7 linked regions of the Homo sapiens genome follow. The protein of the gene in region 1 purifies or fractionates together with the protein of each later gene. This does not show direct contact. Each region holds a gene or a part of one and is shown on either strand. Other genes may lie near its edges. The genes, in order: SCYL3, CCZ1B, FARSB, CNN3, TGFBRAP1, NCAPD3 and UTP6.

What was found.
Region 2: the proteins of SCYL3 (region 1) and CCZ1B purify together in Homo sapiens (co-immunoprecipitation; one large-scale study listed by IntAct). This does not show direct contact.
Region 3: the proteins of SCYL3 (region 1) and FARSB purify together in Homo sapiens (affinity purification with mass spectrometry; one large-scale study listed by BioGRID and IntAct). This does not show direct contact.
Region 4: the proteins of SCYL3 (region 1) and CNN3 purify together in Homo sapiens (affinity purification with mass spectrometry; one large-scale study listed by BioGRID and IntAct). This does not show direct contact.
Region 5: the proteins of SCYL3 (region 1) and TGFBRAP1 purify together in Homo sapiens (co-immunoprecipitation; 2 studies listed by BioGRID and IntAct, with this or other methods). This does not show direct contact.
Region 6: the proteins of SCYL3 (region 1) and NCAPD3 purify together in Homo sapiens (affinity purification with mass spectrometry; one large-scale study listed by BioGRID and IntAct). This does not show direct contact.
Region 7: the proteins of SCYL3 (region 1) and UTP6 purify together in Homo sapiens (affinity purification with mass spectrometry; one large-scale study listed by BioGRID and IntAct). This does not show direct contact.

Annotation. Positions count from the first base shown.
Region 1 is NC_000001.11:169,891,097-169,895,236, reverse strand, and holds the start of SCYL3 (protein-associating with the carboxyl-terminal domain of ezrin), read left to right. Parts: upstream 1-1,340; 5' UTR 1,341-1,449; exon of another isoform or gene 1,450-1,761; intron 1,762-4,140. UniProt on the Homo sapiens protein: May play a role in regulating cell adhesion/migration complexes in migrating cells.
Region 2 is NC_000007.14:6,816,276-6,819,775, forward strand, and holds part of CCZ1B (vacuolar fusion protein CCZ1 homolog B), read right to left. Parts: coding exon 3,491-3,500; intron 1-3,490.
Region 3 is NC_000002.12:222,646,093-222,649,592, forward strand, and holds part of FARSB (phenylalanine--tRNA ligase beta subunit), read right to left. Parts: intron 2,704-3,500; coding exon 2,648-2,703; intron 2,034-2,647; exon of another isoform or gene 1,749-2,033; intron 905-1,748; exon of another isoform or gene 709-904; intron 255-708; exon of another isoform or gene 1-254.
Region 4 is NC_000001.11:94,924,311-94,928,552, forward strand, and holds the start of CNN3 (calponin-3), read right to left. Parts: upstream 2,801-4,242; 5' UTR 2,585-2,800; coding exon 2,528-2,584; intron 2,431-2,527; exon of another isoform or gene 2,050-2,430; intron 1,460-2,049; exon of another isoform or gene 1,323-1,459; intron 1,038-1,322; exon of another isoform or gene 1-1,037. UniProt on the Homo sapiens protein: Thin filament-associated protein that is implicated in the regulation and modulation of smooth muscle contraction. It is capable of binding to actin, calmodulin and tropomyosin. The interaction of calponin with actin inhibits the actomyosin Mg-ATPase activity.
Region 5 is NC_000002.12:105,309,236-105,312,735, forward strand, and holds part of TGFBRAP1 (transforming growth factor-beta receptor-associated protein 1), read right to left. Parts: intron 1-3,500. UniProt on the Homo sapiens protein: Plays a role in the TGF-beta/activin signaling pathway. It associates with inactive heteromeric TGF-beta and activin receptor complexes, mainly through the type II receptor, and is released upon activation of signaling.
Region 6 is NC_000011.10:134,157,968-134,161,467, reverse strand, and holds part of NCAPD3 (condensin-2 complex subunit D3), read left to right. Parts: intron 1-1,393; coding exon 1,394-1,576; intron 1,577-2,972; coding exon 2,973-3,139; intron 3,140-3,400; coding exon 3,401-3,500.
Region 7 is NC_000017.11:31,895,209-31,898,708, forward strand, and holds part of UTP6 (U3 small nucleolar RNA-associated protein 6 homolog), read right to left. Parts: intron 1-3,500. UniProt on the Homo sapiens protein: Part of the small subunit (SSU) processome, first precursor of the small eukaryotic ribosomal subunit.

The sequences.
Region 1 (4,140 bases):
GTGTAGCCATCCCTTACTTGCAGTAAATAGCTTGGTGTGCCTAATTTCAGGGGATCCCTTTCTTAAGTCTTCCTATAGGCTCAACACTTTCTGGCAAAACTTACTGCGGTCAGCTGAAATACGTTTTCTGTTCATGTCTCCCACCCACAAATGTAATGCCTTTTCCGTCTTTTGCTGTTGCACCTCAAACTACAAAAGTTACAGCCACAGTGCATGATAGGTGCTTAGTTAACTAGCACGAATCTTTTTCCTTCTTCACAATTTCATGGATAATTTGTTCTTATCATAGATTTTGGCAACCTCAGCATATGACTCTTTTTCTTTCCTTATTAAGTCCAGAGCTTTCACCTTTTCATTTAAAGGAAGCACTTTACAGCTTCTCCTCGGCATATCCAAATTGTCAGCACAATTCCTGTGCTTTGCGGCCATTATTAAGTAAAATAAGGGTTACCTGAACATAAGCAGGTGGTATCTCTCATTATCTCTGCTATACTACGGGTGCATCTGTTAACCAAAGCAGCTACTGAGTGGGTAATGAGTGGATACTGTACACAGCGCGGCTACCTGCGACAGATGATTCGCGTCAAGGGTGGGACAGAGTGGATGGCCCGAGATTTAATCGGGCTACTCAGAATACAGGCGGTTTGAAACTTAAGAATTGTTTATTTCTGGAGTTTTCCATTTAACATTTCTGAACCAAGGTTTGACCACAGGTAACTGACACTGCAGAAAGCATGGAGGGGGGCAAAACTACTGCATTAATATTAAAATTTTCAAATATTACTTTTTGCTAAATGAAATGTGATTCAGGACCTTCCCTCTCAAAGATCAAGCGAGATCACCACGACCTCCGCCAGCAGCGGCTCTGCACGACTCCACCCTCGCAGCCCAGCCAATCAAAGCTACAGGTTGAGTGACGTCACTCTCCTGAAAGTCCTCGCTAATTCCCGTACTCCTTTTCTCCGCCCTGCACCTCTACTGTTTGCTACAAGTGGCCAGCAGCCATTTTGGATTTGGGCGGAAATGAAATTAAAACTGTGCTGTTAAAAGCCTAAAAATTCAAGTCAAGACAAACTTAAGCATTCGACCAACACATCTAGAAAGGGGGCATCTTCGTGGACTAACTAGACCACTGGGGCAGTGAGTGAAACTCGGTATCGTCGCGGCGCCCACACTTAAGATGGCACCGGCCTGAGACTCAGCTGTGCGGCCTCTCTACCTCGGTTCCTGGTTAGTTGGCCTCATTGGTGGCGTCGGAGGGAGGAAGGTGGGCCTTCTGTCCCGTTTCCGGACCCGTCTCTATGGTGTAGGAGAAACCCGGCCCCCAGAAGATTGTGGGTGTAGTGGCCACAGCCTTACAGGCAGGCAGGGGTGGTTGGTGTCAACAGGGGGGCCAACAGGGTACCAGAGCCAAGACCCTCGGCCTCCTCCCCCGCCGCCTTCCTGCAGGTAACAGGGAGCCCTGCGCTGCGCCCCCAGTCCTTGCAGGACTGCGCCGTGGGGGAAGGGGCCGGGCGGGGAGGAGGCGGCGGGCGCGCGCCCCGCTCGCGGGTCTGCGCTCTGGGGCCCGCGCGGGAGCGAGCTCGGCGCGGCGCCGGCGGCCGGTTGAGCTGTGCTCTCAGCTTCGGAGCAGCCTCCCCTTGCTGATTGTGGGGCGCCCTGTAATCTGCGCTTCGCGGGCGGCCCCCGACGGGTGAGGCGCCCGCGGCCAGAGCTCTCCAAGGCGGCCGCGGAGTCGGTCCTCGCAGGGAGGTGTGGAAGGTGAGGGGCCAGCGAAGCGAGAGCGGCGCCTCGGCCCTTCAGTGACCCCGCGGGGTCGCGGCAAGCAGGGCGAGGGTGCTCGGCTGGGCGGGTCACTGTCCCGGGGCGGCAGTGCCCGAGCCCGGGGGGATCCTGGGGGCGCGCCCGCCCTCGGGAAGGCGGCCTCATTCTTGATCCAAGACCAGTGCCCGTCCCCCAAGGCCCAGCTGGCTCCTGTCTTGGCATAGTGCTTTCTGTTTAGAATAAAGATGAAACATTTCTCGGAAGAGCATATTCAGGAATCCATGTGAAATTCTCGGAGTCGGGTCTCGAATTTTGGGGGTCACTGTTAACTGCTGTTTTTAGGGACCCATGTTCTTATAAAATGTATCTTGAGCTGAAATCACAATTATTTTGGTCCATAAAGACTTAATTGTGTATTGCTTGTCAGCTAGCAATGCTGGACTGAGTTCCGCAGAGGGAATATATACCTGAAACACGAAAGCAAGGGCCGGAGTAACGTTACCGCTGGATACCAGAATATCAGCCAGTACAGTGCATCCTTAATACTCAGAGTGCAAGCCATTATCTTTGGAACTTTCAAGCTAAGGGAGCTAGGACCAAGGTAGTCTCGAGTAATTGCTGGGAAAAGAAAATATTTGGTAGAAACATTTCCATAGAGCACACGGGTTTCTTAGTTGAGTGTATGAGTTGCCCTTTGACCTAGACAAGGGTTTTCTTAATCTACAAGCGGTCCAGAAATTTTATGTGCTGCCCAAGTAGGCAAAAGAGTGGAGGGAGATTATTAAAGGGAAGACTGATGCATATTCAAGTCAGAGACTGTCAACTCAGCATTTTATTATAGAGTGGAGATGCTAAGTGCTACGAAATACCTATTACGGGATACTAGGATATCCTTTTCTACCTTCTTGTGACTTTTTAATTTCAAAGCTAATGAGCAAGATTTTGTGTTTTCCCCGTCCTCAAAACAACAGGAAAGCATTTTGGAAGGCCAAGTGTTTTTCTTACATTTCAATAAATCAATTTTAGCTGAATTATCATTTTTAAAGCACTGGCGGGCATGGTGGCACATGCCTGTAATCTCAGCAACTAGGGAGGCTGGGGAGGGCAGGTAGCTTGAGCCCAGGAATTCCAGGTTACAGTGAGATAGGATAGCGCCAATGCACTCTAGGCCAGCAGCAACAGAACAAGACCATATCTCTATTTAAAACAAAAAACAAACAAAAAAACTTCTTCATATAACAGTATTTGTGCTTCTTTAGATATATTAGTGTGAAGAATTACTGCTTCAAAACATTCTCAAATTGCAATAATCAGCACACCTTTTTAATTTTCCCCCAATAAAGTTTGCACTGGGAACATACAATATAATCTTACCACTGTCAGTATTACACTGATGGTATCAGTGGACTTCTGTCAAAGTTAACATGCTTTCAAAACAAGAAAATGGCATCCTTTCCAGTTCTCTCAAGAAATTGAGTCATCCCTTTTTAATTTTTAAGTGATTTTTTTAGTCTTAGACCTAAAATACAGTAAGAAAAATGAATTTTAACTACTTCCTAATGCTTTTATAACTTTGTTAATTATAGTGGAATTCATATGAAATCTAAGGTTAATAGCTATTGCAAGGCCAATGTTCCCACAAGGAAGTATTTTGCTATTTAGAAATAGCTAAGTAAATTAAATGTTCCTTTCTCTTGCCTCTGGTGACTGCCATTCATCAGCCAGAGCACTGACCCTGAATCCTGGTGGCAGTCTTATCTCCCATGAGGATTAATATTAACACTTAAATAAACAGCATGATTTCCTGCGAAGAAGATATTCATTAATATACAGTCCCTTATTCTCTGCTTTTCTCTTAATTGTGTGTTGATTTTGGAAAGCTGTGTTTTGTGGGTGAGAGAGAGACGGTCAGACTAGCTTCAGATACTTTCAAAGTAACACTTCTGTAACTCACTCTTCCAGTCTGACTGGCTTTTCAGGCAGGAGTTGGAGACCAAGTAGAGCTTTCTGCCTATGAAATGGCAATTAGTTTCAAAGAACATAGACCCATTCAAGTTACCTGAGGAAAAGGGGGCTGGTTGTAAGGGTGTCAATGGGATGTTAGGGTATCTGGGTGGAATTAGATTTGAGGCTGGGCTTCCGGTAGTCTTGAGATGGATAGTAGTAATGTGCCCCCTAAGTATGACTAAGCTACGGTCCCAGTGTTTGCTTTTTAAAATTTTACTACCAACTGACTTCCTCTGGAAAGTTTCTGACTTCATGTGGCTTTGGTTTGCCGTAGCTCCACCTCCACCTCATAGCATCCTTCTACCTTCGGCTATGCTTCTAATAGGCAAAAATTGTTCTTAGTTCAAATTCCTGGGGGAGACAATGATC
Region 2 (3,500 bases), on another chromosome or scaffold:
TCAACACCAGCCTGGCCAACATGGCAAAACACCGTCTCTACTAAAAAATATAAAAATTTGCTAGGCCTGATAGCACACACCTCTAATCCCAGCTACTTGGGAGACTGAGGCATGAGAATCGCTTGAACCTGGGAGGCGCAGGCTGAAGTGAGCTGAGATCACACCACTGCACTCTAGCCTGGGCAACCAAGCAAATGAGACTCAGTCTCAAAAAAAAAAAATCAAAGCAATATACTAAGTAAATACATAAGGGTAATATATACTCTGCTTGTGACAAATGTTTTTTTTCCACTTTTTGGTAGAGACAGAGCCTCATTATATTGTCCAGGCTGGTCTCCAAGTAACTCCTGGCTCAAGCGATCCTTCTGCCTCCTCCTCCCCAGTAGCTGGGACTATAGGTATGTGCACCACGCCTGGCTTAAAAGTCTTTTTGGTATTTAATATAACAGCTTTGGAATAAGCAATTCCATCAAAACGTGCTGTTTTTCTTTTTCTTAGACAGGGTCTTGCTCTGTCACCCAGGCTGGAGTACAGTGGTGCTATCATAGCTCACTGCAACCTCAAACTTCCAGGCTCAAGTGATTCTCCAGCCTCAACCTCTGTAGTCTCTGTAGTTGGGACTCTAAGTGCACACCACAATGCCCAGCTAATTTTTTTTTTGCATTTTTTGTAGAGATACAGTCTCACTATGCTGCCCAGGCTGGTCTTGAACTCCTGGTCTCAAGTGATCCTCCTGCCTCAGCCTCCCAAAGTGCTGGGATGACAGGTGTAAGCGTTGGCGCCTGGAGTAAGAGGCTGTTTTTCTTGAAGGTTATTTTTGTTGCTACTTCCTGGGACTGACCTTTCCCCACGAGCACACTGGAGGTGACAACCGAGCAGTTCTGTGCAGCCACCAGAGCTGTGCCCTGCTCAACCCCTCAGATGCTATTCCAAGATGACGATGCCAACAGGATCCCCAGAGCTGGGCGCCAGATTGTCCTGTGACTCCAGGCTTCAAAGGGCCAACGCTGCTGGTCACTCTGGCTCCAGGGTCTCCCAGAATGAGCTCCTGGAAGACCCTCTGCTCTAAGCCTTCCCTCTTCCTCACTCTCAGGAGTTTGCACCCATGGCGGGGCTTGTGTTCTGTCCCAGAGATCAGAATCTCAGCTACCCTTCTCTTTTTGGTGGAAGCAAGGCCATGGGCCACTACTGCTGGATTCTGGCTTGTCACACGACATCTCCCTATCGCCGTGGCTGCGTGTGATTTGCAAGCACGTCCTGTCATTTCCATCTGTGGAGGAGCCATCCCTCTGCAGACCTGATGCTACAGAAGCACAACTAGCCTCCCATCTCCTACATTTCACAGCAGAATTTCACTTTAGTAACATTGTGTACATATCACAGAAAGCAACTATAGCTGAGTCAGTACAGCGTAAGGTTGCCTGATAAACTATTTGTCAAATTAGAAAGTAGGTGGAGGCCGGGCACAGTGGCTCACACCTGTAATCCCAGCACTGGGAGGCCGAGGTGGGCGGATCCTTTGAGGTCAGGAGTTCGAGACCAGCCTGGCCAACATGGTAAAACCCCGTCTCTACAAAAATTAGCTGGGTGTTGTGGTACTCACCTGTAATCCCAGCTACTCGGGAGGCTGAGGCAGGAGAATTGCTTGAACCCAGGAGGCAGGGGTTGCAGCAAGCCAAGATCATGCCACTGCACTCCAGCCTGGGCAACAGAAAGCGACTCCATTTCAAAAACAAAAAAAAAAGTAGATGGGTTTCACCTGAAATTTGTGTTGTCTTCCTAGGAGATAAAGTTCATGTGGAAACCCACCAAGTTGTTTATTAACTGGATTCAAATTTCTTTACAGTAACTTGTTTCTCTTCTTAAAATGGAGCTACAAGATTTTGGCAGGGAAGGTAAATTTTAGGGGAACTAGTTTTGCCTTTTCTATTAGCTGAACTTACCTTATAGTAGTACCATATGGCCACACCCCTAATTAAGAAACGGGGCTAGGCCAGGTGCGGTGGCTCACACCTGTAATCGCGGCACTTTGGGAGGCCAATGCAGGCGAATCACCTGAGGTCAGGAGTTTAGGACCAGCCTGGCCAACATGGTAAAACCCTGTCTGTACTGAAAATACAAAAATTAGCCGGGCATGGTGGCATATGCCTGTAATCCCAGCTACCTGGGAGGCTGAGGCAGGAGAATCGCTTGAACCCAGGAAGGGGAAGTTGCAGTGAGCCAAGATCGCGCCACTGTACTCCAGCCTGGCAACAGAGTGAGACTCCGTTAGAAAGAAAGAAAGAAAGACAGAAAGAAAGACAGAAAGAAAGACAGACAGAAAGAAAGAAAGAAAGAAAGACAAGAAAGAAAGAAAGACAAGAAAGAAAGAAAGACAGAAAGAAAGACAGACAGAAAGAAAGAAAGAAAGAAAGAAAGACAAGAAAGAAAGAAAGACAAGAAAGAAAGAAAGAAAGAAAGAAAGAGGGCTCTAGTCAATGGGAACATAAAACTTGAGGGTCCCGGAACAGCTGCAAGCCTTGATGACTTCTGTCCACCTACTCTAGGCCAAATGTGCACAACCTCGGTTGCCACCCAGCTCTCAGGGGTCATATATGCTGGGCAGTCTTGTGCCCACGTTGTTCCTACTGCAGGACACAAACCTAGTTTCACGATAGCAGGTAATTTCCTGGTTTATATAACACTTTGGATTTCTTGGATTAAAAAAAATCTAGTTTCTTTAAAAGAAAGTAGGTGCAGTGGCTCGTGCCTGTAATCCCAGCACTTTGGGAGGCTGAGGCGGGTGGATCGCTTGAGGCCAGGAGTTTGAGACCAGCCTGGGCAACACAGTAAACCCCATCTCTATAAGAAAAAAAAAAAAAAAAAAAAAAAGGTATAAAAATTCTGCTTTTAACATTTATCATTTCAGAAAAAAAAACTCCAAAATAAAAACAGGATTCCTAAATCTTACTTGATAGGAACATTCTTTTTTTTTTTTTGGAGACAGAGTCTCTCTCTGTTGCCAGGCTGGGGTACAGTGGTGCCATCTCGGCTCACTGCAACCTCCGCCTCCCGGGTTCAAGTGATTCTCCTGCCTCAGCCTCCTGAGTAGCTGGGATTACAGGCATGCACCACCACGCCCAGCTAATTTTTGTATTTTTAGTAGAGACAGGGTTTCACTATGTTGACCAGGCTGGTCTCCAACTCCTGACCTCGTGATTCACCTGCCTTGGCCTCCCAAAGTGCTAAGATTACAGGTGTGAGCCACCGTGCCCAGCCTTTCATCTTTCATGCAGCCAGTTTTAAACTCCTCTGCTTGGAAATTTGAACCCAAATCACCCTAGTTCTGCTTTAAATAATCACTGCTTTATTTTGACAATATCTATGAAGATGCTTCCTACCCATCCTCCCCGCTGCAAGTTCCTGTTTGACAACCTGTCATCAATCCAGTCACTGCTGTTTTTATTATCTTAATTTCTTCTTTTAATACCATGCCTCGGGGTGTACCTACCAGATGAGCT
Region 3 (3,500 bases), on another chromosome or scaffold:
TACTTTTGGCAGCAGAATAATTTCCTTATGGCCCAATACAATATAATTATTCCGACTAGATTACCAAATTCTCCATAATCCATCCTGTACTAAAATTGGTTGACTCTTCCTCCTTGTGGGAGGAGAGTCACTACAGACACCAAGAATCCATTCAGGCATGTCTTTAACTTCTACTTCCCGGTACTGCCTGCCACAATTTTATCCCTTAGAACCCAGAACAGCTGGGAGCAGATAAAATCTTCTTGGGTTATGAGGTAAGTTTTGTGTTGTATTTCCATATCGCACAGTTTTTCTATCTTCTGAGACTATAAGTTTACGATGTGCTGCTTCAGGATCTAGAATTACATCTACTTGAAATCGCTTGATAATTTTGTTTTGGCCACAATATTGTGGAGACAGATGGTAACCATATTCTTTTAATTTGAATAAAAAAGGTTTAGGGAATTTTAAATTCTTATGTCTGTGATAGATATCCTTAACATCAGCCAGTAATTCCAGTTCTGACTTCACATATATGCTCTCTATCTTCTTTAGTAGATATTTTAATGAGGAGGTATAATCTGAAAATTTTGTTAGGCTTTCATTTAGTTGTGCTAAAATATCCATCTCGTCATCTTGTAATTGCCCAAAAACAGTCTCTTGCTCATTTTGCAGAAATAACCTAAGTTGCTCAAATTCAGACTTGACTTCTTCTGCCGTATGTTTTACCTTTTTCTTCAGTTCCAGTGATTTTCTGGTTTGTATAGTTATGACTTTTTCAATTAGTTCCACTCTCTCCTTCCACGGTGCATTGTATTGCTCCAGTTTTTTCCTGATAGGAGGCAGCCTTCTTTATGGGCCAAACACAGCGATGCTGGTGATCAGTGGACAAACTGCACCTTGGACATAAAAGCTCTAGGTCTTTCTGAGAGAAGAAAGTCAAAACCTGATTATGCTTCTTACACACATGCTTCTCTTCCTGCCTCTTCCTCTTGCTTCTTAGCTGGAGTTGCTTAGCAATTTCAGTCAAACTACCCAGCTGGGGATTGCTTATAAATTTCCTTTCTGGACAGCACAAGTGGCAAAAGGGGCAGGGGAAACTATCATCTAGATCCTTCCAGGACATAATGATGCAGGAGAGACAGAAGTTATGCCCACAGCTGATGGTCACTGGGTCTTTCAAGTAGTCCAGACAGATGGGACAGCTAGCCTCTGCTCGGAGGTCAGCCAGGGCTGTCACAAATTCTACGGAGCCTGGAACAAAGATGGTAGGTAAGGTAATTCTTTTATTTTAGCAAGGCCTAGCTCTCTAGAGCTCAAGACCCACTATGCAGTGGATTCCTCCCCAGACCTTGAAATCTGACCAGCTTTCAGTTTTACTGACTTGGCATGTTGATGGCAGCTTCTAGAAACTTGTTAAGCCCTCAGCTCCTTAGCTTCAGACTTCACAGCCTGCAGCCTATTGCATATTAGAACTTATTAGCTGGGCTGCTGCTCTTCCCACTAAATGAAATAAAGTCAAGTTTTCTTCAAGAAAGCAGCCTCAGGTCCAAGATAAGGACTCCTTCCTGTAATCCCAGCTACTCAGGAGGCTGAGGCAGGAGAATCGCCTGAACCCAAGAGGAGGAGGTTGTGGTGAGCCAAGATCGCGCTGTCGCACTCCAGCCTGGGCAACAGAGTGAAACTATATAAAGCACATTGGGCCAGGCATGGTGGCTCACACCTGTAATCTCAGCACTTTGGGAGGCCAAAGCAGTGGATCACTTGAGGTCAGCAGTTCGAGAACCAGCCTGGCCAACATGGTAAAACCTCGTCTCTCCTTGCATTATAATCACCTGGAGGGCTTGGTAAAAGGTTGCTTGGGCCACATCCCCAGTTTCTGGTTCAGTAGGGCTGGTTTTTTCCTAAGTTCCCAGATGATGCTGCTGGCCTGCGGACTGTACTTTGTGAACTTATGCTGGAGCAGATGGATCAGAAACCCCGGCCAGAGGATGCTCAGGACCCATCAAGCCCCCGCGAGGAAGGACTCAGACCCCCAACCCCACCAAATTAAAGTATGTCTTTAATAGATAATCATTATTAACAATATTAAAATGTATAGCCGACTTGATTTTTTTAAATATTGTAATCATTATACAATCAAAAGTCAAAGAAAATGCTTCCTCATTTTTATAAGCAAGTCCTTAAAAAATATTAGTTCATTTTACAAGACCAATGAATATAGTAATGCATTAGTACTGGTTGAAGAGGCACGGAGGAAGGTTATGGGGGCAGAGGAGCTGAAGGAGGAGGCGCTGGAAGTGAAGGAGGCAGGGTAACTCTGGTTGAAGCAACATTTCTACTGCTTCTTGGTCCCTTTCTGTGATTAATTTGCCAAAGGAGGGAGCTTACTTTCATACTGGGGTTATCTAACACATTCTATCCATTTCCACAGCATGAGCCTGGTAACAAGGTGATTGTAGATGGAATAAGGCATGAACTCCTTTTGAGATTTTAGTCAAGGCAACAGACAGACATGGAGCTTAGCCCTCTGAACACAGAAATCATGGCCCACAAACATTATCACCTTAGTCTAACTATAAGGTAACAAAGATGAAATACAGTATAACCCTGAAAAATAAGCTTATGCACACAATCTTTGAAAAATAGACAAATATCCAATACATACAATTTCATCAAGCTCCAGACCAAATTCAAAACATAGTTCATCAAATTCTTCGTCAGCTAGGAAAATAAAAAAGGAGATGGTTAATTTCACTCTGTTCAGTATAAGTGAAAACTACATACAAACTGCATTTTCTTATTACTAATTGCCTTACACCAATCATACTACTAAATATCAGGCATCACATATTATCATTTAAAAACAAACAGGCCAGGCATGGTGGCTCATGCCTGTAATCCCAGCACTTTGGGAGGCCAATGTGTGTGGATCATCTGAGGTCAGGAGTTTGAAACCAGCCTGGCCAACACGGTGAAACCCTGTCTCTACTAAAAATACAAAATTAGCCAGGCATGGTGGCGCATGCCTGTAATCCCAGCTACTTGGGAGGCTGAGGCAGGAGAATTGCTTGAACCTGGGAGGCAGAGGTTGCAGTGAGCCGAGATCATGACATTGCACTCCAGCCTGGCTGACAAGAGCGAGACTCCGTCTCAAAAAATTAAAAAAAAAAAAAAAAAAAAAAAAAGCTGGGCCAAAAAAATTTAAGATAAAAAAAAGAAAAAACTATTAAAGGCTTGATTAATCTACACTAATATCAACTGTAGTTTAGGTTACCTGCACTGGGAAGTTTGCATGTACACAGAAGAAAAACACCTGTTCACCTGTTAAGTAGAGATCAGATATAAAGTAGGCTCCAAATCACAGATCTCACACAACAGAATGTCACATAAGTCCTATCAGGTAAAATGGTCTGAGGTGGCCTGACACTTTTGGCTTTGAAGCCAAGTCAATCAGAGTTTGAATTCTATCCCACTTATTAGATCTGAGAGTTTGGCACCTTATGTAAACTTTCTTGGTA
Region 4 (4,242 bases), about 75 Mb from region 1:
ACAGGTGGGTAGCAAAAATGGGAGGAAGGGCTGGGCGCCATGGCTCACGCCTGTAATCCCAGCATTTTGGAAGGCCAAGGCAGGGGGAATCACCTGAGGTCAGGAGTTGGAGACCAGCCTGGCCAACATGGCAAAACCCTGTCTCTACTAAATAATACAAACATTAGCCGGGCATGGTGGCAGGCACCTGTAATCCCAGCTACTCGGGGCGCTGAGGCAGGAGAATCACTTGAACCTGGGAGGCGAAGGTTGCAGTGAGCTGAGATCGCGCCACTGCACTCCAGCCTGGGCGACAGAGCAAGACTCCGTCTCAAAAAAGAAAGAAAAAAAAATGGGGGGAAGGCGACAGACAGCAGAGTTTGTGTAGAACATCCCTAAGTACTTCACTCAACTAAGACATCGCTTTTAGAGTTAAAATTCTTAGAATAGTCCAACTTCTGTGACCTTGAGCAAATCTTTCTGAGCTTCAGTGTACTGATCTGTAAATGATGTTGGATAATCCCAGCAATCCTCCTCACCTTACAGGACTGCTCTGCTGTTAAGATCAAAAGACTTCCTATGAAAGAATACTGTCTGAAAGGACTACAAAAATGAAACGGGTTATTAAAAAATGGGTTTGGTGCTTAAAGGGATAAATCCACAGCTTTCATAACTAACTTTCCAAAGGTTCTAAAAACTGAGGTTTTACCGTTTTTAAATATTTACAATAATTACAGTGATCTAGCCTGTGTATGCATTTCCTTGGATCTGCTCAGTATTAAGCAGGAAAAGGGCAAAAGCTGCTACATTAGTCAGCAAAAAAGAAATTAGCATGGATATTATTAACATCCAAGAAAAGTAAGTCACTTGAAGGGCTGCCAACGTTATCAGTACCTCATTTACAATGCAAAAGGTAGTAGAGACTCAACTGCTGCCAGCCAAGAATCACTGGGGGGAATTACAATGAATGTGCACAACCAGGCCAAAGTATCACATCACATCCAACATTTTGGACATGCCCATTCCTCTGAAGTTTCCTAAAGTTCGGTTTGTAAATCCTGGAAGGAAGGAAACAGTAACTTGTTACAAACTTTTCAGTTGGTGAGGTTTGCACTCAATCATACACAAACCATTCACCTTTCTGCTCTCTAAAAAAATTGTTAGCAAACTGTTGTCTAATACGGGCAACACGTTTGAAAAGGTAAAGGACCTAAACATTTCAACTTTAGATACATAGACTAAAATCAACTCCTTGCTTCAAAGACAGTATGATGTGCAGACTAACAGCGGGAGACAAGAGCCACAACTCTCCCTTGGGGTTTGACAACGGTGCGCTTCATTACCTCTTTACATAATTCGCTTCACACCGCCTACCCCCGCAGCCCCGGGATGTTCCAGCTCTGACAATGCCAGTGCCTTCCACCAGCGGTCGGACGGTGCGGTGGCAATCCTGACATGCTTGGGCTCCCGGGAGGTTAATGGGAATTAAACCACAGGCAGCCCTCCTTTGTGGCGCTTTGGCCAGAACAGCAGAAAGGAGACAATGAGCGTTCTGTGCACAGTTCCGCGCCGATTGGCTGGTCTCTCCCCCCAGAAACCCCTGATGTCATGGGCTTGGAATGCAGGGAGGGAGGAAGGAAGGAGAGGATTTGGGGAGGGGGACGCCTCTCATCTCTTTCCCAGGCCAAAAGTCCTAAAGATAAACCTAACGCATTCTTGGGCTCAGTGGCAAAGCTGAGCGTCACCAAATCCCAATCGCTCCAAACTATAAGCCGCCTCAGCAAACAAGCCCCAAACAAAAGCAACCCACAAAAATAATCCTTTATGTCGTGAAAGTCTAATGTACTTCAAACTTCTCAGTGTTTCATAAAAAGTCTCAAGCCTAAGCAGATATCACTCGCACAGTGGCGCGCTCAGGCTTTGTCTCCATTTCCCGCAAAAGCAACAGCAGAAGCAGCAGCAGCAATCTGCCTCCAAATGCCTCCCAGGCACCGAGATCGGAGACTGTGATGGGTCCCGGACCGGCTTCCGTTCCTCGGGGCCCCTGGGGTCGGCGGGACATTAGGCGGTCTCTCTCCCCGTGGGGAGGCGCGGAGTCCGCCAGCACCCGGGGCCCGGGCAGATGGCGGGGGCTGCGGCAGCGGCTCGCCGGGTCCCTGGCCGCGCAGACGGGCTCCGCCTAAGGGCGAGTGGCCACGCAGGAGCGCCCCCTTCCCGGAGGGCGCGTTCTGCAGTCACCAAACGGCCCCCGAGACCCCCGCAGCCGGAAAGGCTGGCGCCGCGGGACTCCAGGCGCCCGGGAACCCACCGCCAGCCACTAGTCCTGTCCCACGGCGCGGGAACAAAGCCAGGCGGGTGCCCGGGAGCCGGCCCCGCAAGCCCGGGGACTGGACGCGACCGGGACAGGCAGAGACGCTCGCGCCGCCTCGACGGCCCCTCTCCAGGAAAACGGTGAGCCACAGCGCGAAGAGCAAACGAAGCACGGCCCAGCGCCAGGCCAGCCCAAGGGTGCCCCGGGGGCCCCCGCGCCCGCCCGAGCCAGGCGTACCTTGTTCTTGACTTCGGCCGAGAGCCCATAGGAAGGGCCCTTGTTGAAGTGGGTCATGGTGGTTCGGGCGGCGGGAAGAGACAGCGCTGGGGTCCGGGGTCTCTCGCACTTCGCTTCCCCGCTCCTGGCCCCGAGGAGTGGCCGCCGCGGGGGATGCTCGAACTCCCTCCTCTGGGAGGCGCAGGAGACGGCCGCGGGGCGCGGGCGGTGCCTGGGCGACTGGGTCCAACTGGGTGCTACAGAGCCTCGAGCTCCGCTGCGAAGCACCCGGCTGCCTCGCTCGCCGCCCGCACCTCGGTTCCCCACAGGCCGCCCCCGCCTCCGCCTGGGCCTTCGAGGATTGGCCGCCGGGCCCGACCAATGGAGGGCCGCCTCCTCCCGCCTCTGCGCCGAGGGGCGGTGCGGCCAATTGAAGGGCCGCGGGGGCCGCTTTCCCTCCCGCTCCCTCCCCGCGAGGTCCCCGGCCCCCGCCCCAGCCCTCACGCCACCGGGGCCGGCGGCTAGGCGGCCCCGCCCCCGGGCTAGGCAGGGCGCCTGGGGGCTTCCCAGCCACAGGCCATTCACGTCAACCTCCAGGCATCCTCCGCGGCGGGCCGGACCGGGCCGGCGGAGGGGAGCGGAAGCCCACCGGGGCTGGCCCGCCGCTGACCCGCCGCCTCCGTCTGCCTCCTCCCGGGCTCTGGGCCCAGCGCGCCCAGATGCCGGGCAGGACCCCTCCGCCCGCTGCTGGAACACCAATAGCAGCGTTGGAGCCTCTGGGCCGGAGGAACTGGGGCCTCCACCGACACCTGCTTCTTCCCTCACCTCGCAGCCTTCCACACCTGTTGATCTGACCTCTGCCCCGCTGCCGCCCAGGAGTAACCTAAGGCTTTTGGCCTGATTCGAGCTCACTCCGTCTAAACCTCTAAATGCGGTGCGAAAAAATCCTGGGGAATGTGCCATGCAAAGCCTGGGCATTTCAAGTGCTTTTCTGGATTCGCATCAACTCCTCTTTACAGGCATCTTTATCCGGAATTCAGCTCGTCCCAAACCCCACGTGGTGTAGCTCTGCTTGTGTTTTTGAATCCCGGGGCCTCTTTGAATCAGAAGCCCTTTGTATAGAGATAAGTATCCTTTAGGCCAGAATCAGCCTCCATTTTTTTCGCAGTCCCATTTCCTACCCGTAATACTTTCTTCTGATTTTAAAGCCATTTGATAGAGAAGGGACAGGGAACAGAACCTTCGCCCCCCGCCTGAGCAGCTGGTAGACTAGATATCTTCCAAACATTATCTCATTTACTTCCCTGGAGTTACAAATAGGTAGATTTCATGTCCGTTGAGGGGTGAGAAAGCTGAAACTTTGAGACTTAAGAATCCTGGCCGAGGTCAGCCTCCTCCGAAGCTTCATCTCTTGCCACCACTTTCTGGTGCACACCTAGGACAGATTTCAATCCCTGAGATCCCAGGATGAAACCTATGTTTGCCAAATACCAGCTACTGTGCCAGAAGAGATCATGGAACCAGGTGTGGAAAGCTGCTTGAGAAGAGGAGCCAAAACATCATAGTTGAACCGTCCTGGAATAGAAGTGAGTAAGGTGAACCAGGTGTGGTGGCTCATGCCTGTAATCCTAGCACTTTGGGAGACCGAGGTGGGAGGATTGCTTGAGGCCTGGAGTTCAGGAACATCCTGGGCAACATAGCAAGATCCTGTCTCTACAAAAAATCCAAAGTTTTTT
Region 5 (3,500 bases), on another chromosome or scaffold:
AGTCCCTGTGAGCGGGAGCAGGGCAGGGGATCAGAGAGCTGGAAAGAGGACTGCAGAGAATGACGGGAGCTGCAGGGCAGCTGGCTGGGCTTGCGTCAGCACTGCTGCATGTTCAGAGAGCTTGAAGTGAAAGGCTGCTATCACTGTCACTTCCTCATCTCAAGTTGTCTGAACATGGAACAGTGCTGCTTCATGAGAGCTTAAGTTCCTAATACTTGGAGGCATTCCAGCAAAGCAGGGAAGACCTCTCAGAAATATTCAAGAAAGGTTCACGCATCAGGGAAGGGAAGGAATCAGAGAACTTCTTTGGTGCCTTTCAAATAGAAAATTTGGAATTCTACAATTTTGTGTCTGCCCCCATCCATGGGGGCAATGACAGCTACACACAAGTGAGACTCCAGCCCCCTTCCTTAGCTCTACAAAACCCCCAGGAGGGAGGATACCCCAGGGTTGAGGAGGAGGCTTGTCTGTAGACACATCAGTCCTTCCTGTTTTCTTCCCATCACTTGAGCAAATTACTTGGTGCTATGGTCAGAATGTCTGTGTCCCCCTAAAATTCATATGTTGGAACTTAATCCCCAGAGTGGTAGTGTTGGGAGGTGGGGAGGTGATTAGGTCATGAGGGTGGAGCCCTTATGAATGGCATTAGTGCCCTTATTAAAGAGGCCCCAGAGAGCTTATTTGTTCCTTCCATCCACTATGTGAGGAGGCAGCTGCAAGGCACCACCCCTGAGGGATGGGCCCTCACCAAACACTGAGCCTACCATGCCTTAATCTTGGACTTCCCAGCCTCCATGAACGGTAAGCAATACATTTCTATTATCTATTAATTACCTAGTGTATGGTAGTTTGTTACAGCAGCTGGAATGGACACTTGGCTATTCCAGCCTCAACTGCCTCATCTGTGAAATGAGAATAACGGTACCTACTTCATAGGATTGTTGGACGATTAAGTAAGTGACCTCATATAAAATGCGGACAGCTGGCACACAGCACTCAAACTTTTGGATCTCATCATAAATACTATGATTCCCTCCCAGTCTGGATCAGCTCTCACTCCTCTCTCAAACTACCAGCTTGCTTCAGGTGTTTATTTCCCAAGCTGGGCACCAAGAGATTAGACTATGCTGTCTTCTGTCCTCAGATATGGGTAACCTGTTCACCTCCGCCAAAACACAGCCTGCATCATAAGCCAGAACACACACTCACACACCTGCCCCACCCCTAAGACATCTTCACACTCACCTACGGGAGCTCATCTTCACAGAAACTATGGAAAAGAGCTGGGGGAAGTGTAGAGGGAGGTTCTAAAGGCACCACAGAGAAGGAATCATGTCCATCTACCTCGGGGCTGTGGGAACATCCCCAGAATCCCAGGTGAGGCCGAGTGCAGAACTCTTGCAGGCTTCTACAAATAGTCTCTGGCACAAACAGCTCTTAAACAACATCATGTATTTGTCCCAACCAAACATAACCACCAAAACCCACCTAGACAACATTTTTTTCTCCATTTAAGAGCTAATGAGTAAAACCCAGATATTGAAATGTCAGCTTCCAGACATCTAAGTTAGTGAAAGTGAAGTAATACAAAATACTTCTTCCTTCATTGATTAATCAATCAGGGTTGTCTTTTTTAAATGGCAGGAGTAAGCAGTTCTGCCATTTAAAATATAAATTGTGTCTCCCTTTGCGGAAGGAATAGAGAAACAAACTCTGGGCACCTACAATCAAACTCCTTTTATTTAGCTTCTTAAAAGTATAATATTCATAATTCCAGCCCCTGTCTTCAGTTAGCATAAGGGATAAACTAAACACATTTGCAGTAAAGAATATTATAGAAAGAATCAAACGCCTCATATTTAGTCTAAATCCTGGGGTAGATAGAGAAGGGGAGAGGGAGAGAGAGCTGTAAAAAAAAAAAAAAAACAAAAAACAAAAAAACATATGGTTTACTAAAAAGTCATAACTCTATAATATTTAAAAACAAATGCAATATTGTTTCATTATCTAGTAAACTGTTATTCAAGCCTTGCTAAAGATAAGCTTCCTATTATAGGCCTTTAAATTAAGGACTTGCTTTGGTAATTAAATGGTAATAATGCAGAATTACATGGAGGTAAATGAAAGCTGAAGAAGTAACATGCTAGCACTTAAAAATGACTTATCCTTAACCCTGTCTCTACAAAAAAAATATAAAAACTTAGCCAGACCTGGTGGGGCACACCTGTATTCCCTCCTCCTCAGGAGGCTGAGGTAGGAGGGTTGCTTGAGCCCAGTGGTTTGCGGCTTCAGTGAGCCATGATTGCACCACCGCTCTCCAGCCTGGGAAACAGTGTGAGATGCTTTCACACAGAAAAAAAAAGAAAAAAGAAAAAAAAATTGGCTAGGAGTGGTGGCTCACACCTGTAATCCCACCATTTTGGGAGGCTGAGGCAGGCGGATCACCTGAGGTCAGGAGTTCAAGACCAGCCTGCCCAACATGGCAAAACCCCGTCTCTACTAAAAATACACACACAAAAAAAAGTTAGCCAGGCATGGTGGCGGGCACCTGTAATTCCAGCTATTCAGGAGGCTGAGGCAGGAGAATCGCTTGAACTGGGAGGCAGAGGGTGCAGTGAGCCGAGATCGTACCACTGCACTCCAGCCTGGGTGACAGGAGCAAAACTCCATCTCAAAAAAAAAAAATTAATTTAAAAAACTATTTTTTTTAAGCAGTGGGAAAATTCTCTCCATGATCTAATTCACATGATATATTTACTTAGATAAAATATGAATCATAAAAAGATAAACTTTAGGCCACACCTCTATTAAATATAACTTGCTGGGGTTCTGAATCAGAGAAGTTTCAACATGGTAATGTTTCAAAAGGAAACGTTTCTCTAAGGTGTAAAATTCATACTTTACTGTGTGATCTCAAAATGATCGAAAATTTAAACTTTTTGTTAGAACTTCACTTTAAGGCTTACCTATAATCCTAACACTTTGAGAGGCCCAGGCAGGAAGATCACTTGTGCCCAAGAGTTCAAGACCAGCCTGGGCAAAATATTGAGACTTGGTCTCTATTTTTAAAAAAAATAAGAATATTAAATTTAAAAAATTCACTTTAAAAGTATGATTATAATAATTTAAAAGATCAACATTTTAATGTTTTCTTAAAATTTCAAAATACATACCCAGGTAGGGAAGAGATTGGAAAATGCTAGGATGCTCAAGGACCATAATTTAATTAAGCTAACCTTGCATATGCAGCAAGCACCTCTAAGTTTGCAAAAAACTAAACAATTACAAGACACAATCCCACTTCCTAAGAGTCTCCCCGTCCTATTAAGGAAATAGGACTAGAAAAATAAATCAGTAATAGTATAAAGCAATACATGCTAAGGGTCAAAATAAAAATATTAGTAATTATTTCCTACCAGGTTAAGAATATGCACATTGTCATTTTAAAGATTCTGCCACTGGTGATAGTCAGAATCTTAGTCAGCATCTTTAAAGATGCT
Region 6 (3,500 bases), on another chromosome or scaffold:
ATGCTGCTTGGGGGTAAGGTGAAAGTGAGTCTTCGGGTTTGATTTCAGGGTGCTTACCTTTTGCACTGACTCAGATTCACAAGGTCAGGAAATAACTGCCCTGCAGGAGCTGCCTTCGGAGCTGCCATCACCAGGCTGAATTCTTTGTCAAGCAAGGGGACCATGAGGAGCTCAGTCGGAGCAAACCCAGGATGTGTTGACTTGCAGGGCGGACCTAAGTGGGGCCTCAGACCTTTCTTGCAAAATCTTTTACTAAGAAATAAATGCAACATAGTTTTTCTTTAATTCAGCAGTTATAGCTCTGTTCACATTATGTGTTTTTCTTCCTCAAAAAAATGCTACAATTTTTTTTCCAATAAAGGCCTCAACAAAAATTACATTGAATATAAATTTTCAAATAGCTTTTTATACTAGGAAGCCAAGGTAGGAAAGATAGTCTCATTGTATGATAAAAATAAAAACTTCCAAATATTCTTGTATTTATTGCCTGACTTTAGACCCTAGAAAGGAAAAAAAAAAACAAAAACAGAGCTTTGATCCTACATAGACTACTTAAACACTTAAGAAAAATAAGCCTTCCTCCTGCTTGTGAGCACACACACAGGATGGCCACACGTTGCTTGTTGTCAGTAGCTTGAGGGAGTCTCTTCATTGGCCTGTGGAACCCACTCCTAGTGGCAGCTGGAAAAGTGCATGGATTCCTTCTCTTTGTTGAGACTTCCCTCCCAGTTGGAACTGCAGTGTCTTTTTCTCCCTATTACTGTTAGGTGGAATGATTCTTTCTCTTAGCAAAGTGGTCTTGCCCCTGGCACCCCTCTTTAAGACCTAAGAATGTTTTTCCCTAGGTATGAGAAAAGGTTTTCTGTAAAATCTTCAGAAGAAGACACAAAGATGGGATTTGAGCCTTAGTTGGAATCCCCTGAGAGCCAATGGGGAGGCTAATGTAGACAGATGAGCAGCTTTTAGATCCATGCATCCTGGGACTTGCTCCAGAGGCTGTGTCTGAGCATGTCTTTCTCCCATTGGGAACCTGGGAGAGATTGCCCATTAACTGCCACATAGCCAGGATGCTTCCTAAGAGAGAGAACTGTTAGTTACTCACATATTTTTCTGCTTGTGTGGCCAGTGGTGTTTGCTCCAAATATACCATTGTACCTGTTAGTTACTGGAATGGAAATCATCTGCTTTCAGTAATGTCAGTCCTATTGTTCCTATGATTTATCAAGCAACATGACTTGGGGGGCTTTTTTCTTTCTTAACTTTTATTTTGCGTTCAGGGGTACACGTGCAGGATGTGCAGGTTTGTTACACAGGCGAAGGTGTGTCGTGGGGGTTTAGGGCTTTACGTTTTTATTCAAGAAAACATGAAAGGATGCTCCTGGCTCTGTTTCAGGAGGTGATGCAGGATTACCGAGATGAGCTCAAGGACTTCTTTGCAGTTGACAAACAGCTGGCATCAGAGCTTGAGTATGACATGAAGAAGTACCAGGAACAGCTGGTCCAGGAGCAGGAGCTAGCAAAACATGCAGATGTGGCCGGGACGGCTGGAGGTGCTGAGGTGGCACCTGTGGCACAGGTAGGTGTGGGGCCCACTGCACTGTGACCAGACAGTCCAGTCTGCTGTCTGCTACCAGTCTGTCGTTTGTCTGGCACCTCTCAAGATCTCCGTCATCAGAGGTTAGTCAGCCCGAAGGCCTCGAGAGTGCTGCTTGTTGGCCACTCCCTCGTGCCTTTCTGTCTGTGATGGATTTACTGTGCTCCAGACCTCCCTTCCATGAGGACGTGGTGCAGGAAGCGAGCTGGCAGCAGCAGTAGCTGGTGACTATAGATCCTAGGTCTGCCAGGGTGTGTCAGTGTGTCCGCATCTTCCCCCAGCACTCCCTCTTTAGAGCAGACCGGCACACGGCCATTTCTAGGAGTAGCTGTTGCTCACCGTCCTGAGGAATGCAGGCAGATCTCTTGTAGGAAAGACCAATGAGCACAAAGTAGCATACTCCTTTTTCTCTTCTGTCATGCCACAGCATCTACAAGTGGCAGCTTTCTCATAGTATTCTGTTTCTGAAAAGGAAATTCAACTTACCCAGGGTTGATATGGCTTCAAAGTACATTACTTATGGACTTGCTCATAGTACGTGAAGATTCTATTCCAATAAAGTGTTAAAATGGAGAAAGGGAATGGCTTGTACACTGTTGGTAGGGATGGAAAGTAGAACAGCCACTATGGAGAACAGTATAGAGGTTCCAAAAAACTAAAAGTAGAGGTACCATATGAGGCAGCAGCCTCGCTGCTGACTGTATAGTCAAAAGAAAGGAAATCAGGATGTCGAAGACATACCTGCACTCCCATGTTTATTGCAGCACTGTTCACAATAGCAAAATTTGGAAACAAATGTCCATCAGTGGATGAATGGTAAAGAAAATGGGGTGCATATACAGTGGAGTACTTTTCATCTATAAAAAGTGAAATCTTGTCATCTGTTGCAACATGGATGAACTTGGAAGACATTATATTAAGTGAAATAAGCCAAACACAGAAAGACAAAGATTGTATGTTCTCATTCATATATGTGAGCCAAAAAGGTTGATCTCACGGAGTTAGAGAGTGGATTTTTGGTGATTACCAGAGGCTGGGAAGGGGTGGGAGAAGGGGGATGAAGAGAAGTTGGTTAATGGGTACCAAAATACAGTTAGATAGAAGAAATAAGTTCTAGTATTCAGTACAGTGGAGATATTACAGTTTAACAATTTACTGTATATTTCAAAGTACATAGAAGAATTGGAATGTTCCCAACACAAAGAAAAGATACTCACGTTTGAGGTGATGGAGATGCCAATTACCCTGATTTGATCATTACGTTGTCCACATGTATCAAAATCTCATATGGACCCCCAACCATGTACAACTATCATATATCCGTTTTTGAAAACTTAAAAAGTATTAGAATGTACATACTCTTTATCTTCTCTACCAGGTTGCCCTGTGTTTAGAAACAGTGCCAGTTCCTGCTGGCCAAGAAAACCCTGCCATGTCACCTGCCGTGAGCCAGCCCTGCACACCCAGGGCAAGTGCTGGCCATGTAGCAGTATCATCTCCTACACCTGAAACAGGGCCATTGCAGAGGTTGCTGCCCAAAGCCAGGTAAAGAGCCCCTGGAGGCCACATCAGGGCTGGTTCTCTGTGGCGATGTTCTCAGAGGCGTCCCTGCCATTCCCAAGCGTGGGCAGGAAAGTCATTGTCATTGTCTGGCCTGCCACCCCGCTCCACACTGTGCCCTGGGAGGTTTGAATGAGGGTGGTGAGGGATGCGCCGGTGAGGAGGCACGCGGGGACACAGTGCAGCACTGTCACCTCTGCAGTGGTCTGCAGTGAGAAAGTCAGCGGCTGTGGCTGTTCTCCACAGGCCCATGTCCCTGAGCACCATTGCAATCCTGAATTCTGTCAAGAAAGCCGTGGAGTCAAAGAGCAGGCATCGGAGTCGGAGCTTAGGAGTGCTGCCTTTC
Region 7 (3,500 bases), on another chromosome or scaffold:
CTTATAATTACATGCTTCACTTAAAAATTATTCCATGAAATATTTCAAGCATATAAAACACCCCATGCAGCTACAATGCAGCTACACCAAACCTACATTGCACTACATTTGCTTCAAATCTTTTTTAGAAATAAAACAGTTCGTATAAAAATGAAGCTACCTATGTACCTATCTCTGATTCTACTCTTCTCCCTCTCCAGAGGCAGCAATTACCTTGACTTTGTTATCATTCCCAAACATGACTTTGGACTTTATTATAATGATGTCTTGAATGCCTTTAAATTTTACATAAATGGTATCATGCTACATCCATCAATCCATAGGTGTTTTGTTTTGTTTTTTTGAGACGGGGTCTCCCTCTGTCGCCCAGGCTAGAGTGCAGTGGCATAATCTCGGCTCACTGCAACCTCTGCCTCCTGGCTTTAAGAGATTCTCCTGCCTCAGCCTCCCGAGTAGCTTGGATTACAGGCGCCTGCCACCATGCCCGGCTAATTTTTGTATTTTTAGTAGAGATGGGGTTTCACCATGTTGGCTAGGCTGGTCTTGAACTCCCGACCTCGAGTGATCCACCCACCTTGGCCTCCCAAAGTGCTGGGATTATAGGCATGAGCCACCGTGCCCGGCCCATCAATCCATATTTCTACTCAACATTATCCCTTTAGCTATATCCCTATTCACCGAGGCTGGTGGTGTGTGCCTGTAATCCCAGCTACTTGGGAGGCTGATCAGGAGGTAGAGGTTACAGTCAGCCGAGATCATGTCACTGCACTCCAGCCTGGGTGACGGAGCGAGACTCCATCTCAAAAAAGAAAAAAAAAAAAAAGTTTGCTCTTATAATGAATATAAAGCAGTCCTACACCTGGTTTTTTTTTATTGTTTGTTTTTTTGAGATGGAGTCTCGCTCTGTCGCCCAGGCTGAAGTGCAGTGGCGCAACCTAGGCTCACTGCAACCTCCGCCTCCCGGATTCAAGCAGTTTTCCTGCCTCAGCCTCCCCAGTAGCTGGGATTACAGGTACGTGCTACCGTGCCTGGCTAATTTTTGTATTTTTAGTAGAGATGGGGTTCCACCATGTTGACCAGGCTGATCTCCAACTCCCAACCTCAAGTAATCCACCCGCCTCAGCCTCCCAAAGTGCTAGGATTACAGGCATGAGCTACCGCGCTCGGCCCCTACACCTTGTTTTAATCTTTATTTAACTAATTACTGATAAGGCTGATGTCTTTTCATAAGTTTAACTACAAGTGATGTTTCCCCTTTGTGACTTTCACGTTCACATGATTTGCCCATTTTTCTTTTTAGTTTTCATTTTCTTCTCGATTTACAGTTCTTTATATATGTGTATATGTAGTTCTAATTATGTGTTGTAAATATTTTCTCACATTTTGTGGCTTGTATTTTCACATTATTTGTAGTGTCTTTTTTGCACAGAAAAAAATTTTTTTTTTTTTTGAGACAGGGTCTCTATCACCCAGACTGAAGTGCAATGGCGCCATCATGGCTCACTACAGCTTCCACCTCCCAGGTTCAACTGATCCTCCCACCTCAACCTCCAGAGTAGCTGGGACTACAGGTGTGCACCACCATGCCCAGCTAATTTTTGTATTTTTTGTAGAGATGGGGTTTGCCATGTTGCCTAGGCTGGTCTTGAACTCCTGGGCTCAAGCGATCTGCCTGTCTCACACGTGAGCCGCCACGCCCCTCCAGAAATTTGTATTTTGAACACAATCAAATAAATCAGTCTTTTCTCTCATGGTTTGTGCTTTCACAGTCTAATTTAGCTTTAAGAAATCTTTTGGCTGGGCACACTGGCTCAAGTCTGTAATTCCCAAAACTCTGGTACGGCAAGGCAGGAGGATCACTTGAGCCCAGGAGTTCAAGACCAGCCTGGGCAACATAAGGAGACCCTATCTCTACAAAAAATAAGAAAATTAGCCAGCCATCTGGCACAAGCCTGTAGTCCTACCTACTTGGGAGGCTGAGGCAGGAGGATCATCTGAGCCTAGAAGTTCGAGGCTGCAATGAGTGCTCGCACCATTGCACTCCAGCCTGGGCAAGAGTGAGTGTATTATTTGGAAAAAAAAAAATCTATTTTTGACATAATATGGTCTTGGCTCATTTTGAGTGAGCAATCTACTCATAGGACCTCTTCCAAAAACAATAGCTTAGCCAAGGTTCATATATTGTTTGTTCGGCTGTCTTTTGTCTTTTTAAATCTAAGCTCAAAACTTCTAGTCTTTTTTTTTTTTTTTTTTTTTGAGATGGAGTTTCGCTCTTGTCTCCCAGGCTGGGAGTGCAATGGCACAATCTTGGCTCACTGCAACCTCCACCTCCTGGGTTCAAGCAATTCTCCTGCCTCAGCCCCTGAGTAGCTAGGATTACAGGCACCCAACACCACACCCGGCTAATTTTTGTATTTTTAGTAGAGATGGGGGTTTCACCATGTTGGCCAGGCTGGTCTCGAACTCCTGACCACAGGTGATCTGCCTGCCTCAGCCTCCCAAAGTGCTGGTATTACAGCATGAGCCACCATGCCCAACCAAAACTTCTAGTCTTATAAACATGTGATCTTGTTATTGGTTCTTTCTGAATCCTGATTCCGTCATCCAACATATTAGCTATTCTCCCCCACTGGAAAATTGGTCTGACATAATTTTTCTTTATTCAAACCTTCCATGCATTTACAAGATGAAAAAATCTTGCAGTACACCTCTTTCCAAGTGGACAGACAATAGATAAACAAGCAGTAACTTTTCAATTCTCTACACTCATCACATTCACTCTCCTCTATCTTGCTCACCAAGAGGCAAATCTCTTGCTGAAGTCCTGATACACACTATGTCTCTGACAATCTCTGATCTACAAACCCAGTAGAAAAAAAAAAGAAAGAAAACGACAAGAGAGAAAGAGGAGGGGAAAAGTAAGTTCAGTTTGGCCAGGACTACAGTCTTAGTGGAGTAATGCTACTCCCAATGCTACTCCTGTTCAGAAATATCTATCTAATGAACGTTTCTGGAATTCTTTTAATTTTTTTAAAAAACTGATGTTGGCCGGGCGTGGTGGCTCATGCCTGTAATTCCAGCACTTTGGGAGGCCGAGGCGGGTGGATCACCAGGTCAGGAGTTCAAGACCAGCCTGGTCAAGATGGTGAAACGCTGTCTCTACAAAAATTAGCCTGGCGTGGTTGTGGGCACCTGTAATCCCAGCTACTCAGGAGGCTGAGGCAGATAACTGCTTGAACCCAGGAAGCGGAGGTTGCAGTGAGCCGAGATCGCACCACTGCACTCCAGCCTGGGCAATAAGAGTGAAACTCCATCTCAAAAAAAAAAAAAATTTGATGTTAAGCTCATCATTCTAGAACTGATTTTAAATTTGTGAAGGAATGGGAGGCTGAGGCAGGAGAATCACTTGAACCCAGGAGGCGGAGGTTGCGGTGAGCGTGAGCAGAGACTGTGCAACTGCACTCCAGCCTGGGTGACACAGAGAGACTCTATTTCAATTA